Linked DNA regions of Homo sapiens. The protein of the gene in region 1 purifies or fractionates together with the protein of each later gene. This does not show direct contact. Each region holds a gene or a part of one and is shown in the gene's direction. Other genes may lie near its edges.

Region 1 (3,500 bases):
CCTGGGTTCAAGCAACTCTTCTGCCTCAGCCTCCTGGGTAGTTGGGACTACGGGTGCCTGCCACGATGCCTGGCTAATTTTGTATTTTTAGTAGAGACGGGGTTTCGCCATGTTGGCCAGGCTGGTCTCGAACTCCTGACCTCAGGGGATCTGCCCACCTCAGCCTCCCAAAGTGCTGGGATTACAGGCGTGAGCCACCGTGCCCATCCCACATTGAACACTAAATATGTGCAGTTTTACCGTATGTCATCTCTTCTTTCATAAAGCAATTACTGAGGCAGGAGGATTGCTTGAGCCTGGCCTGGGAGGTGGAGGCTGCAGTGAGCTATGATGGTGCCACTGCACTCGGCCTGGGTGACAGAGTGAGACCCTGTCTCTAAAAAAAAGAAAAAATAAAAGAAAGAAAGAAAATTTTGTTGGGATTCATGTGCAGTTGAAAGAAATAATGCAGAGACATCCCTTGTACACTTTGCTGCATTTTCCCCCAGTGTCAACATTTTGGACATTTCTTTTTCTTTTCTTTTTTGAGGTGGAGTCTCGCTCAGTCACCCAGGCTGGAGTGCAGTGGTGCAATCTCGGCTCATTGCAGCCTCCACCTCCCAGGCCAGGCTCAAGTGATTCTCGTGCTTCAGCCACCCGAGTAGCTGGGATTACAGTCACGTGCCATTACGCCCAGCTAATTTTTGTATTTTTAGTAGAGATGGGGTTTCACCATTTTGGCCAGGCTGGTCTCAAACTCCTGACCTCAGGTGATCCACTCGCCTCGGCCTCTCAAAGTGCTGGGATTACAGGCGTGAGACACTGCGCCCACCAACAATTGGGTATTTGGCTTTTATTGCAGCAACTGCTGAAAATCCAGTCTCACAAAGATGTGACATCTTCAAAAGGATGATAGCGCCCTCTCATGTTGAACTTGTGAACTGCCTTAAGCTAGCAGTTCATGTGGTATCTGACCAATATCAAGGTCTTCCTCAAAAATTTAAAACATCCTCATGCTGAGTCTTAAGTTTGCTGCAGCCTTCTGGGGTATCTTTGGTACGTGGATTAGTTTGTTAGGGCTGCTATGACAAAGTTCCACAAATTGGGTGGCTCGTATAACAAAAATATGTTTTCTCATAGTTCCAAAGGCCAGAAGTCCAAGATCAAGATGTAGGCAGGTTTGGTTCCTTCTGAGCAGTGTGGGGGAGAATCTGTCTGTTCCATGCCTCTCTCTCTCTGCTTCTGCCGGTTTGCTGGCAGTCTTGGGTACTTTGGCTTGTAGACATGTCACCCAATCTCTCAGCTCACTGCAGCCTCCACCCCCTGGGTTCAAGCGATTCTCCTGCCTCAGCCTCCCAAGTAGCTGGGATTACAGGCATGTGCCACCACACCTGGCTAATTTTTGTATGTTTAGTAGAGATGGGGTTTCGCCATGTTGGCCAGGCTGGTCTCGAACTCCTGACCTCAAGTTATCCACCCATCTCAGCCTCCGAAAGTGTTGGGATTACAGGCGTGAGCCACCACACCTGACCTCTGTCTTTATCCTTACGTGGCATTCTCCCTGTGTGCGTATCTATGTCCAAATTTCCTTTTTTGTTTTGTTTTGTTTTGAGACAGGATCTCCCTCTGTCACCCAGGCTGGAGTACAGTGGCTCAATCACAGCTCACTGCAGCTTCGAGCTCCTTGTCTCAAGGGATCTGCCACCTCAGCTTCCCAAGTAGCTAGGACTACAGGTGTGCACCACCATGCCCAGCTAATTTATTTTGTATCTTGTAGAGATGGGGTCTTGCTTTGTGGCCCAGGCTGGTCTTGAACTCCTGGCTTCGAGAGATCATCCTGCCTCAGCCTTCCAAAGTATTGGGATTACAGGCATGAGCCACCACACCCAGCAATTTCCCATTTTTCTAAGAACACCTCGTCGTAGTGGATTAGGGCCCACCTTAATTACCTCATTTTAATTACTTCTATGAAGACTCTGTCTCCAAATAAGGTCACATTCTAAAGTACTGGGGGTTAAGACTTCAACATGTGAGGTTTTTTTTTGGTTTTTTTTTTTTTTTTTTTTGAGATGGAGTCTTGTTCTGTTCCCCAGGCTGGAGTGCAGTGGCACAATCTCAGCTCACTGCAACCTCTCCTCCTGGGTTCAAGCAATTCTCCTGCCTCAGCCTCCCGAGTAGCTGGGATTACAGGTGCCTGCCACCACGCCTTGCTAATTTTTGTATTTTAGTAGAGGTGGGGTTTCGCCATGTTGGCCAGGGTGGTCTTGAACTCCTGACCTCAGCTGATTCACCCACCTCTGCCTCCCAGAGTGCTGGGATTACAGGTGTGAGCCACCGTGCCCGGCCAACATATGAGTTTTTATGGGACATGATTCAACCCATAACAGAGCACAAATTGAAGTGTTGAGCAATTCATTTATCTATTTAGTCTGCATGTTATGTTGAATACCTTCTTTGTCTCGGACAGGGAGAAAACACAAGACTCTGTGTCCTCATGGAACCCCCAGTTTGCTGGGAGAGACAGAGCACACCCCAATAAGTACAGATGAATACAGAAATGAGGACAGATTGGAAGCTGGTCTTAGGCATAAGCAGACCCAGGGCTACTAATGTCATCAAGTTCATTCTCACCGTCTCTCCGACTCTCATCTCCACTTCTGTCCACTGGCCTCATTCTCCCAGGACCCTCCCTGTGGTGGGGCCATGACAGGAGAAGTCCTGGAATCCCATCCTTCCATCTCATGTGCTTCCCCCAGACTATCAGGAAAGGAGTCAGGGCCGGGTGCAGTGGCTCTTGCCTGTAATCCCAGCACTTTGGGAGGCCAAGGCGGGTGGATCACTTGAGGTCAGGAGTTCAAGATCAGCCTGGCCAACATGGTGAAACCCCATCTCTACTAAAAATACAAAAATTAGCTGGGTGTGGTGGTACGTGCCTGTAATCCCAGCTACTCGGGAGGTTGAGGCACTAGAATTGCTCGAGCCTGGGAGGTGGAGGTTGCAGTGAGCCAAGATCGCGCCACTGCACACTCCAGCCTGGGAGACAGAGCAAGACTCTGTCTCAAAAAAAAAAAAAAAAAAAACAAAAAAAAAAACGGAAAGGAGTCAGGCTAGCTCCATGGGGTCACATTCCCATCTCTAGGCCAATCCCTGTGAGTGTCCAGACCTGGGTCATGTGGCTGATAGGGTGATACACTGTGGTTGGAAGGCCCACCAGAACCACATGGAGGGCTGGATAGTGTCAGCAGAAGGGTAGATGTTATTCTGGGGTGACAGGGACAGCAGATGTTTGCCATGCTTAGTGACTCATTTTCCCTGGGCCATTCAATCTCTCCCACATTCAGGCAACCAAAAACAGGTACCATCCTCTTTCTTGTAGATCCAGGAGTGGGAGACGCGGATCTTTACCCACAGTAAGAATGTCAGGTCCCCGGGATTCATCCTGGATCAGAAGGTCAAGATCAGGCGAAGGATCAGGATCCTAGAAAACCAGTTGGACAGGGTGAGGGTCAAACTCCTGGTCC
Region 2 (3,500 bases), on another chromosome or scaffold:
AGCCACCCACCCTGCTCCTCCTCCTCCTCCTGGACACACAGCTGCCCACACTCCTCCTCCTGGACACACAGCTGCCCACCCTCCTCCTCCTGGACACGCAGCCGCCCACCCTCCTCCTGGACACACAGCCGCCCACTCTCCTCCTCCTGGACATGCAGCCGCCCACCCTGCTCCTCCTCCTCCTGGACACACAGACACCTACCCTCCTCCTGCTGGACACACAGCCACCCACCCTGCTCTTCCTCCTCCCCCTCCTCCCTGCTGTTTGCTAAATGTGCCCCAACTACTCCTCCAGGCTCTGAAACCCAGAGGCTCTAACACCAGAAGTGCTGGGCAGGTGTTTTATGGTCTCTAGGGTGGCACGGAAGCATGCTTGGTGCTGAAGCCTGCTGAGACCTGGGCTCACCCGAGCCCCTCGCAGCCCTCGTGAGTGTCCCGCACGTCGCTGGGACGTTTCTTGCATGAGTGCAGGTGCCGCCTGTTCCTGGGTCCACACTGCGTGCACCTCATTGGCGTTTAGAGCCTGAAAGATTCTTAATTCCACAGAAATCAGGGAAGGATGGGCCTAGGCCCGCAGTTCTGAGGAGACCCATGAACCTGGTTCGTGTGCTTGTCATGTGCTCTCGGGAAATACATCCTGTGTGGAGAGCCCTTCGCATCTCCTGCGGCAAACAGTCTTGGGGCCCTCATGACAGGAACGTTTCTTTGAATTTTTTTTTTTTTTTTTTTTTTTTTTTTTTGAGACAGAGTCTCGCTCTGTCGCCCAGGCTGGAGTGCAGTGGCGAGATCTTGAGATCTTGGCTCACTGCAACCTCCACCTCCTGGGTTCAAGCAATTCACTGCCTCAGCCTCCCGAGTAGCTAGGATTACAGGCACCCGCCACCATGCCTGGCTAATTTTTGTATTTTTAGTAGAGACAGGGTTTCACCATTTTGGCCAGGGTGGTCTCGAACTCCTGACCTCGTGATCCACCTGTCTCAGCCTCCCAAAATGCTAGGATTACAGGCGTGAGCCACTGCACCCGGCCCAATTTTTTGAATTCTTAAGAGAAAGCTCAGCCCTGCCTGCCAAATTCTTAGAAGTTACACACACAGAAACTCCAAATTCATCACATAAACCACAATTTTGTGTTTTCGGTGCTCAGATATAGAACCTTCCCATCCTTTTTCCCTTGTATGAAGCTTGTGTCCTCAATCACCGCAGAAATAGGTTATGACAGTTGCCTTTTAAGCAAGGAGATGTAAGCCTTGGTTCTGTTTCTCATAGAATTAAATAAACTTGAAATGTGCAGGGCTCATTGTGGAATCACCCGAGTGCTCCGAAACTCCCTGAAATCCACTCATTAACACCAGACAGGTGCGACTCCTGGTGAGCCAGGTATTCCACCGTGCACCTGTTCTGTTTCACCTGCAGGGTAAAGAAAAAGTACTGGAAGATTGTCAGCTGCCGAAGGTCGATCTCGTAGCTCAGGTGAAACAGCTTCAGGAAAAACTGAACCGTTTGCTGTATTCCATGACCTTCCAGAATGTGGATGCTGCCGACACCAAATCTCTGTGGCCCATGGCCTCAGCACACCTGTTGGAGAGCAGCTGGAGTGATGATTCCTGTGACGGAGAAGAGCCTGACATATCACCCCACATAGACACATGTGATGCCAATACAGCCACGGGGGGTGTAACTGATGTTATCAAAAATCAGGCCATAGACGCGTGTGATGCCAATACAACCCCAGGGGGTGTAACTGATGTTATCAAAAATTGGGATTCCTTGATACCAGATGAAATGCCAGATTCTCCCATTCAAGAAAAATCAGAATGTCAGGACATGTCTCTTTCTTCACCGACCAGCGTACTTGGTGGCTCCCGCCACCAGAGCCACACTGCAGAGGCTGGGCCCCGGAAGAGCCCGGTCGGGATGCTGGACCTGTCTTCCTGGAGCTCCCCTGAGGTCCTCAGGAAGGACTGGACCCTGGAGCCCTGGCCCAGCCTCCCCGTGACACCCCACTCAGGAGCCCTGAGCCTGTGCAGTGCCGACACATCCCTGGGGGACAGGGCGGACACCTCGCTGCCACAGACCCAGGGGCCGGGGCTGCTTTGTTCCCCAGGCGTGTCTGCAGCAGCGCTGGCACTGCAGTGGGCCGAGTCTCCGCCGGCTGACGACCACCATGTGCAGAGGACGGCTGTGGTAGGTGCCTGCTCTGCTCCCAGGCCTGCTGTTCCCGTGGGAATGTGGTCTGCCCGGCGCCACGGCAGCTGCCATTGTTTGTTCACCTCCTGACAGCACACACCTCGCAGTGCTGTGTGGGGCCAGCTCTGCAGGACTGGCATCATGGGCGCATTTAGATTATTTCAGTTGTTCAGGTATTTTTAAAATGCCTGAGATGCATTTGCCTGCCTCAGACATACCCTGGGCATGCTTCTCCACTGACGCTGACTCCAACGGGCATAGCCCAGACACGTCTTCGTGTGTGATGGGCATAGGGTTCTTTGTCCAGAATGGTTTTTTAGATTTATTTTTAGGAATGCTTCCTTTTTTTTTTTTTTTTTTTTTTTTTGTGAGATGGAGTCTCGCTCTGTCACCCAGGCTAGAGTGCAGTGACGCAATCTCGGCTCACTGCAGCCTCCGCCTCCCCAGGTTCAAGCAAATCTCCTGCCTCAGCCTCCCTAGTAGCTGGGACTACAGGCACACGCCACCACACCCGGCTAATTTTTGTAGTTTAGTAGAGACGGGGTTTTACCTTATTGGTCAGGCTGGTCTCGAACTCCTGACCTCATGATCCACCCACCTCAGCCTCCCAAAGTGCTGGGCTTACAGGCGTGAGCCACCATGCTCAGCCAGAAATGCTTCATATTTTTAACAGGTTTCACATATGCTAATTAATTTTAATTTATGAGTTAGATCGTATTATTTCTAACATAATCATTTTGGGATTTTGTGTATCTTGAGTAAGATAAAATTAAAAATCAGGTATGGTTGGGCTCATGCTTGTAGTCTCAGCACTTTGGGAGGCTGAGGCGGGAGGATTGCTTGAGCCCAGGAATTTGAGACCAGGCTGGGTAACACGGTGAGACCCTGTCTCTACAAAAAAAACACAAAAAATTAGCTGGGCGTGCTGGTGCCGCCCATGGTCCCTGCTCTTCAGGAGGCTGAGGCAGGAGGATCACTTGACCTTGGGAGGTTGAGGATGCAGTGAGCCAAGATTGAACCACTGCACTCCAGCCTGGGTGACAGAGTGAGACCCTCCCTCAAAAAATAATAATTTAGCAGATACATATTATCTGAAACATCCATATACTATCATTTCATGCAAAACAATTTAAATCTGAAATATTTACTATTGGCTACATTAAAATATTCCTAAAGAGCTGTGGGTGAATCTGATTAAATTGTTGGAAGCATTCGACCTGTGTGTTCACCAGTTTTGAGTTGTTTCATCTGGGGTCTATGTGGGAAGATAAATTCAGGCCTTTGAAAGTTTTCACCTGGCAAAGTCAGCGCTA
Region 3 (3,500 bases), on another chromosome or scaffold:
TTCTCCCCGGCATCATATCCCTTATAGTCTGTGCTCCAGGTAAACAGTGTCTCTGCCAGCCACAGCTTGGCAAGCCCGGCTATGTCTGGCCACTGAGAGATGCTGCCCGCAGCTCGATGATGTGCTGGGATGTTCTGGGGTGGGGCTGCTGAGATTGCACTGAAAAAGAAAGCTGGAGAAGCCGGGGCTGCTCCCACCCAGGCTGGCCCCCTGTCCAGCTGCTGCTGTGGGCACATGCCCTAGTTGTGGCCTGTGGCACCTGCTTATGACAACAAGCTTTGGGTAGAGCTTACTTACACCCTTGGTTTCTCCAGTCCCTGCCTGCTCATGCCCCTCAGAGAGTGAGGTGTCTGTTCCACAAGAGCACCCGCTCCCCTGCAGGCCTTTGTTTAGGGTTTGGAGAAACAGGCAGAGCAGGGGCTGCCCTCAGGGAGTAGAGCATTAGGGAGCTGGTGCCTGGGGCCTTCTCCCTCCAGTGTGGAAATCCTGCCCACCAGCCAAAACCTGCTGCAAATGGGGACTGCCAGCCCAGCCTGTGGGCGCAGCTGCCTGCACAGTGGATGGAGCAGCTCTGTGCCTTCTGTGTGGTGGGGAGTGGCTGTCTCTATGAGGCTGCTAGGATGCTTGGGCCCCAGCCAGTCTGTGCTTGCTTCCTCTTCTGCCTGGCTCCCTGACAGGTCCCCCAGAAGCCCCAGAGCCCTATTTGCACTGCCTTAAGAGTGCCCGCTGGCCATGCAGCTACCTGGCCTTTCAGGCAGGAGGGATCTGATCTCAGGTGGCTCACAGTGGACCACATCCATCCTTGGGCCAGAGACACTAGAGGAAAACTCCAGCTGTGGGGTTTCAGAGTTGTCAGGAACTGGTGGGCTCAGGACCGATGTCAGGCTCTAGGGAGTCAGGCTCTGGGGATGTCGGTTCCCACTTCTGAGGAGAGGGACAGGGAGGCCTCCCAGGTGGTGAAGCACCGACCTCAGCATCCCTGGAGGCAATTGGGAGCCTGACGGGTTTGGCGGCTGCTAGATCCACATCGGCGACCCACATCCTGCCGGCGTGCACCTGCGTCTGTGTCTGCTCCTGGTGGGTTGTGGGGCAGGAATCAGATTCACTCATTAGTAAGCCGCACTCGCTGAAGGGGAGAGCATGAGCAAGGGAGACGTGAGCCAGGCCTTGGTTATTAGGAGCTAATTATGGGCCAAGTATGGTGGCTCACGCCTGTAATCCTAGCACTTCGGGAGGCCGAGGCGGGCGGATCACCTGAGGTCAGGAGTTCGAGACCAGCCTGGCCAACATGGTGAAACCCTGTCTCTACTAAAAATAGAAAAAAAATTAGTTGGGTGTGGTGACGCACGCCTATAATCCCAGCTACCTGGGAGGCTGAGGCAGGAGAATCACTTGAACCCAGGAGGCAGAGGTTGCAGTGAGCCGAGGTCGTGCCACCGTACTCCAGCCTGGGCGACAGAGTGAGACTGTCTCAAAAAAAAAAAAAAAAAAAAAAACAAGCTAATTGTGGTGTTGTGCGGTGCGGTGCGGTGCAGGTGTAAGCAGTGAGCCTCCAGACACTGCCCCTTTCTCCCTCAGCTTTCTGGGGAGCTGCCAGGACACAGCAGCCTCACTGTGCTCAGATAGACTGTGGGGGTGGGAGGCATCCCGGGTGCCTTTCTGCCCCTATACATTTTGTTAACAAGGCAGCTGCACTTGTCTGCTTGAGATGCGAGTTGATTTCCCGACGTCTTCTGGCCCGAGATGTCTCATTCCCACAAAGGAGGCTGACCCAGGCGGCTGTGGGTGCTGCCATTTTGTTCTCATTGTTTTCACTTGTGATACTAACTATTGTTTTTCTCCCCCATGCCAAGAGCATGTGCCCTCTCCTTCCGTGCACACCCTCCAGGCGCTCTGTGTGGTGGCTTCTGTTAACCCCTTCTTGACTTTTGGATTTTTTCTTGTCGCTTTGGTGGTTTGGGGAACTCTGGTGTGGGGCTAGGCTGCCTCTGGGTCTCTGAGCCGTCCGCCTTGGGCACAGCGCTCCCCCGGAAGTTCAGTCAGGGTGGCTTCCTGCTGGCTGCTGTTTGGCGTACGTCCCAACACTGAGCATGCTCGGAGAACTCTGCCTGGAGTTTGGGGCTGGGCTGGGGGCCTGCTGGCTTCAGGGTGCCCCCCAGGCTCTCCCACCCTGGTTGTGCCCTCTGGGTATGCGAGCTTTGTCACGGGCTCCTCCGACCTGAGCCCTCGCCTGTTCTGATTATGATGCCACTCCATATTTTTGACTTCTCCTGGTGGATCTTGGTCCATCTTCATTACCCTCTGTCCTTTCAGAAATGAGCTGAAATCCAGAACAAGGAGGGTCGGTAGTAGAATCAAGGCTCCATTTGGAGAAGGAAATGACTCCTTTCCTTCATCCTTGTCCCCAGCGTCTCTGGTGGTCTCAGGGAAAGGCCTGCTCACTGTTGGGGAGCTGGGTGCGGGGCCTGGGGGGCAGGTGGAGGGCCGCTGCTGTTTTCTCTCACTCATTTCCTAGGTCTTCTTATCTCCTCTCTGTGTGGCTCTGGTGACAGGGACGATCCGTAAGGCTCAGAACCTTCTGAAACAGTATTCCCAGCATGGTCTAGATGGGAAAAAGGGGGGCTCTAACCTCATTCCTCTGGAAGGTAATCACCCTGTGTTCCCCTCCTGTCCCTTCCTCCTCCACTGTGTGTCCACGCACTTGGCAGGGCAGAGCCTCCCCCAGGAGGGCCTCGGGAGAAACCCTGAGGGGAGCAGGGTGGGAACGGCAGGTCCCCGATGCCACTCGGGCTTCAGCGGGCACAGGGACAGTTTCGCAGCCCTCGGCCTGGTCCTCTCTGGCTGATGGCAGCTCTGCCCTCCCTGAGGCTTCCCTCCTCCCTTCCCTGTCTCTGTCCTTGTCTCCTGTGTGAACTCAGAAAAAGTTATTTGTCTTGGGGCAGCCCTTTCACGCTCAGACCAGCAGTGGCAGGCCCCAGCTGGCCGAGGCCTCCCGGCCTTCCCATCTTTAGAAAGGGGAGTGTGTGCAGCAGAGGACAGGCAAACTGGGGCTTTCCCCAAATACAGCGAGGTGGGGAACCCCCCTGGGGCCAAGCATCAGCTCTTCAGCCCCTCCTTGGTCCTTCTCCGCTTTCCCTGGGCCTCCAGGCTCGGGGAAATGAGCAGCTAAGGACGGTCCTGGGTGCTCACTGAAGTCAGGCTTGAAACGGCTGTTCCCAAGGTGGCTTGAGGTAGAGGAGGGGCTCAGGGCCCTCTCCGATGCCCCCTTCCCCATCCCCATCTGACGTCCCCCTCCTGGAGATGAAGGGCTTCTTCCCTGTACCCCAAGGGGCGGCCTGCCTGGCCCCTGGATAAACGCTGCTTGTGTTTGTGCGGCCGACATCTCGCCAGGTCACGAGCATGATTTCCGAGTTAAGCACCTGTCCGAGGCCTTGAACGACAAGCACGGGCCGCTGGCCGGTGAGTACCGCAGCCCAGCCCGAGGGCAGCCGCTGACACTG
Region 4 (3,500 bases), on another chromosome or scaffold:
ATTTTTTGTATTTTTAGTAGAGACGGGGTTTCACCTTGTTAGCCAGGATGGTCTCGATCTCCTGACCTCATGATCCACCTGCCTCGGCCTCCCAAAGTGCTGGGATTACAGGCGTGAGCCACCACGCCTGGCCCCGCTGAAAGTTTTTAAGTGAAATGATGGCAAAGATCAGTGCCAGTAGAGCAGAGAAAGTTTTGGAGCATCCAGGAGAGAGAGAGAAGGGCAGAGAGATGGGTAAGGCTATTGGGCACGGGTAGTATGGAAGCATAAGCTGAGTGACGTCAGTGTGTAGGAGAATTGAGAGGTAATGAGTAATTCAAGTGATAGTGAATAATTGAGTAATTCAGAATTATTAGTGAATAATTCTCAAGTCAAAGAATTGAGAGATAATGAATAAAGGTATATGTGTATATACCCATGTACATATAAATAAATAATTTAAGGAACTCAGAGTACAGGAACTAAAGGGAAAAACAATGAAATGTCTTCCAGATTCTAGCCTCATCTACTGAATAAGTGAAGATAGCTTTTTTTTTTTGCTTTTTTTTTTTTTAAAAGACAGGGTCTTGCACTGTCGCCCAAGCCGAAGTGCAGTGGTGCAATCATAATTCACTGCAGCCTTATACTCCCAGGCAGGAGCGATCCTCCCACCTCAGCCTCCTGAGTAGTAGAGACTACAGGTGCACACCACCACACCTGGCTAATTTTTAAATTTTTTGTAGAGATAGAGTTTCGCCATGTTGCCCAAGCTGGTCTCGAACTCCTGGGCTCAAGCGATTCTCCCATCTTGGCCTCCCAAAGTTCTAGGATTAAGGGTGTGAGCCACTGTGCCTGGCCGATACCATTCTAATTAAGAAGGAAAACAAGGGAGGAGGAACAGGTTTAGGGTTGACAAGTTCAGTTGGGGACCTGTCGAGTTTGAGGTGTGTGTGGTACATCCTGGATAAGAGTTCATTAGCATGTAGCCATGAGTCAGAATGACCTTAAGGAGATTGTACAGCATGAGATGAGGGCCAAAAAGACAAAATCATAGGGAATGTCAAAATCAAGGTAGAAGATGAAGAGAGCAAAAAAGAGACCAAGAGAGGTCAGAGAGATGGGAGGAAAAGATAGACTCCCTGCTTCCTTCTGGAAAGTGGCAAGTGCTTAGAGAGAGATTGTGTAGTCTTGGTGATATGGTTTGGCTGTGTCCCCACCCAAATCTCATCTTGAATTGTAGCTCCCATAATTCCCACATGTCGTCGGAGGGACTTGGTGGGAGGTAATTGAATCATGGGGACAGGTCTTTCACATGCTGTTCTTGTGATCATAAGTCTCATGAGATCTGATGGATTTATAAAGGAGAGTTTCCTTGCACACGCCCTCTTTACCTGTCACCATGTAAGATATAACTTTGCTCCTCCTTCACCTTCCGCCATGATTGTGAAGCCTCCCCAGCCATGTAGAACTGTGAGTCAATTAAACCTCTTTTATAAATTACCCAATTTCAGGTATATCTTTATTGGCAGCGTGAGAATAGATTAATACACTTGGACAGGTTACTTGAGCTTCTCTGAACCTTTGTTTCCTCATCTGCAAAAAGGGAGTAATGATAGTACCTACCCATGGGGTGTCGTGAGGATTAAATTAATAAATATGTGTAAAGTACTTAAAACAGTCCTGGCACATAGTAAATGCTATATACATGTTTCATATTATTATTCTTTTTATTATCAAGAAATAAGGAACATCCATGGGAATTAGTATCCAACCGGTCATTAGTGACCTATGCTAGGGGCATTTCAGTGGAGTGGTGGGGGTAGAAGCCAGACTACAGTTGGTTAGAGAATGAATATGATACAAGAAAAGCAAACAGATAATTCAACTTATTAAAAGATTGCCTGTGAAGAAAAGGAAAGAGCAACATCAGTATCTGGCAAGGTGTGTGGTAGTGGTGATGGTGAGGGGTGTTGTGTGTCTTTGGGTCATGGGGAAAACTTAAGCATGGTTAAAATTGCTGAGAGGAGTGAGTAGAAGGGGAAGGGTCAAAGAGAAGCAGGAAGAATAGTTGATGGCTCAAGGTCCCATGGAAGGTAGGATGATTCAGATCCCAGGTGGAGGGATTAACTTAAGTGAAGAAGGACCCATCTTACACAAGCATGAAAATGAAGGAGATGAAGATAGGTAGTGATGCACATGAGTGTGTAAATGGGGACAGATATTTGAGGGATTTCCTGTCTGCTGGCCTGTTTTCTCTGGGAAACAGGGTAAATGGTTTGCTGAGCGCCAGTAGACAAGTGGGGCTTTAGGAGAGCAGTGAAGGTTTGATTTAATTGCTGTGAAGAATGGGTGAGAGCCAACAGAGACTTGTGGAAGATGGTTGCAGGGGGTGCTATGGGTCCAGCTGACATATATTGGCAATGGATGACACAATCAAATGACCTCTTCCAGTAGTACTGTAGCTGACAGGTGAGCACAGAGCACGGGGCTGTTGGGGTTTTGCTTTGTGGGGTGACCATTAGTTTTGTGGCGAAGGAGTAGCAGAAGGATAGAATCTGATACATCAGGTCCGGAGGTTTTGATGAAGCTGCCAAATGGGTCTCTGGGGAGAAGGAAGTAAAAGTACTATAAGGGAGAAAGTTGTAGTTGGATAAGAGAATAATCAAGTTTAAGATTTAAGAGGCAGAAAGTTTTTTCTGATAATGCCAAGGTCCACAGACTGAACAGGACTGCAGGCATGTGGCTAAAGGGGAATAGAGGCAAAGGCATTGGTGTCTAGGAGCTGCAGGACTAGGTGGACAGTGAGTGGTAGAAGTGGAGGGAACCTAGATGGTGCCAGGAGGAAGACTGTGTGAGAAGTGCTGTTTCTTTTTCTTTTTCTTTCTTTCTTTCTTTTTTTTTTTTGAGACGGAGTTTCACTCTTGTTGCCCCTGTTGGAGTGCAGTGGTGCAATCTCGGCTCACTGCAACCTCCACCTCCCAGGTTCAAGCGATTCTCCTGCCTCAGCCTCCAGAGTAGCTGAGATTACAGGCATGCACCACCACACCCAGCTAATTTTTGTATTTTTTTTAGTAGAGATGGGGTTTCACCACGTTGGTCAGGCTGGTCTCAAACTCCTGACCTCAGGTAATCTACCCGCCTCAGCCTCCCAAAGTGTTGGGATTACAGGTGTGAGCCACCACTCCCGCCCCAGGAGTGCCATTTCTGAGGGAATATGTTACATTGACCAGGGAGTGATCAGTGAGGGGCCGAGAGAGATGTGGGTTGGTGGCCCAGGCTCAGCAGCCTACATCTCTTCATGGGGTCTTTAGGCTAACATAGGATGATGGAGTATCTGTGTATTTCGCCATAGACAGATTTTAGTAGTTGCAACAGAGACTGTATGGCTTACAAAATCTAAAATATTTACCTGTAAAGGTAAAGAAATGAAACAAAACCGTTAGATTATTATAAAACAGAGTGACAGCTTAAATTTGTCAGTGTATAAGAATTTTGTGTATACTTGAAAAACACTGGCCTGG

What was found. Proteins that work in one complex are often made in the same cells at the same time.
Region 2: the proteins of ODAD1 (region 1) and PCNT purify together in Homo sapiens (affinity purification with mass spectrometry; one large-scale study listed by BioGRID and IntAct). This does not show direct contact.
Region 3: the proteins of ODAD1 (region 1) and EXOC7 purify together in Homo sapiens (affinity purification with mass spectrometry; one large-scale study listed by BioGRID and IntAct). This does not show direct contact.
Region 4: the proteins of ODAD1 (region 1) and PDCD7 purify together in Homo sapiens (affinity purification with mass spectrometry; one large-scale study listed by BioGRID and IntAct). This does not show direct contact.

What each region holds. Positions count from the first base shown.
Region 1 is NC_000019.10:48,311,972-48,315,471, reverse strand, and holds part of ODAD1 (outer dynein arm-docking complex subunit 1), read left to right. Parts: intron 1-3,355; coding exon 3,356-3,478; intron 3,479-3,500. UniProt on the Homo sapiens protein: Component of the outer dynein arm-docking complex (ODA-DC) that mediates outer dynein arms (ODA) binding onto the doublet microtubule. Involved in mediating assembly of both ODAs and their axonemal docking complex onto ciliary microtubules.
Region 2 is NC_000021.9:46,414,656-46,418,155, forward strand, and holds part of PCNT (pericentrin), read left to right. Parts: intron 1-1,413; coding exon 1,414-2,184; intron 2,185-3,500. UniProt on the Homo sapiens protein: Integral component of the filamentous matrix of the centrosome involved in the initial establishment of organized microtubule arrays in both mitosis and meiosis. Plays a role, together with DISC1, in the microtubule network formation.
Region 3 is NC_000017.11:76,090,288-76,093,787, reverse strand, and holds part of EXOC7 (exocyst complex component 7), read left to right. Parts: intron 1-2,552; coding exon 2,553-2,645; intron 2,646-3,306; coding exon of another isoform or gene 3,307-3,459; intron 3,460-3,500. UniProt on the Homo sapiens protein: Component of the exocyst complex involved in the docking of exocytic vesicles with fusion sites on the plasma membrane.
Region 4 is NC_000015.10:65,123,809-65,127,308, reverse strand, and holds part of PDCD7 (programmed cell death protein 7), read left to right. Parts: intron 1-3,500. UniProt on the Homo sapiens protein: Promotes apoptosis when overexpressed.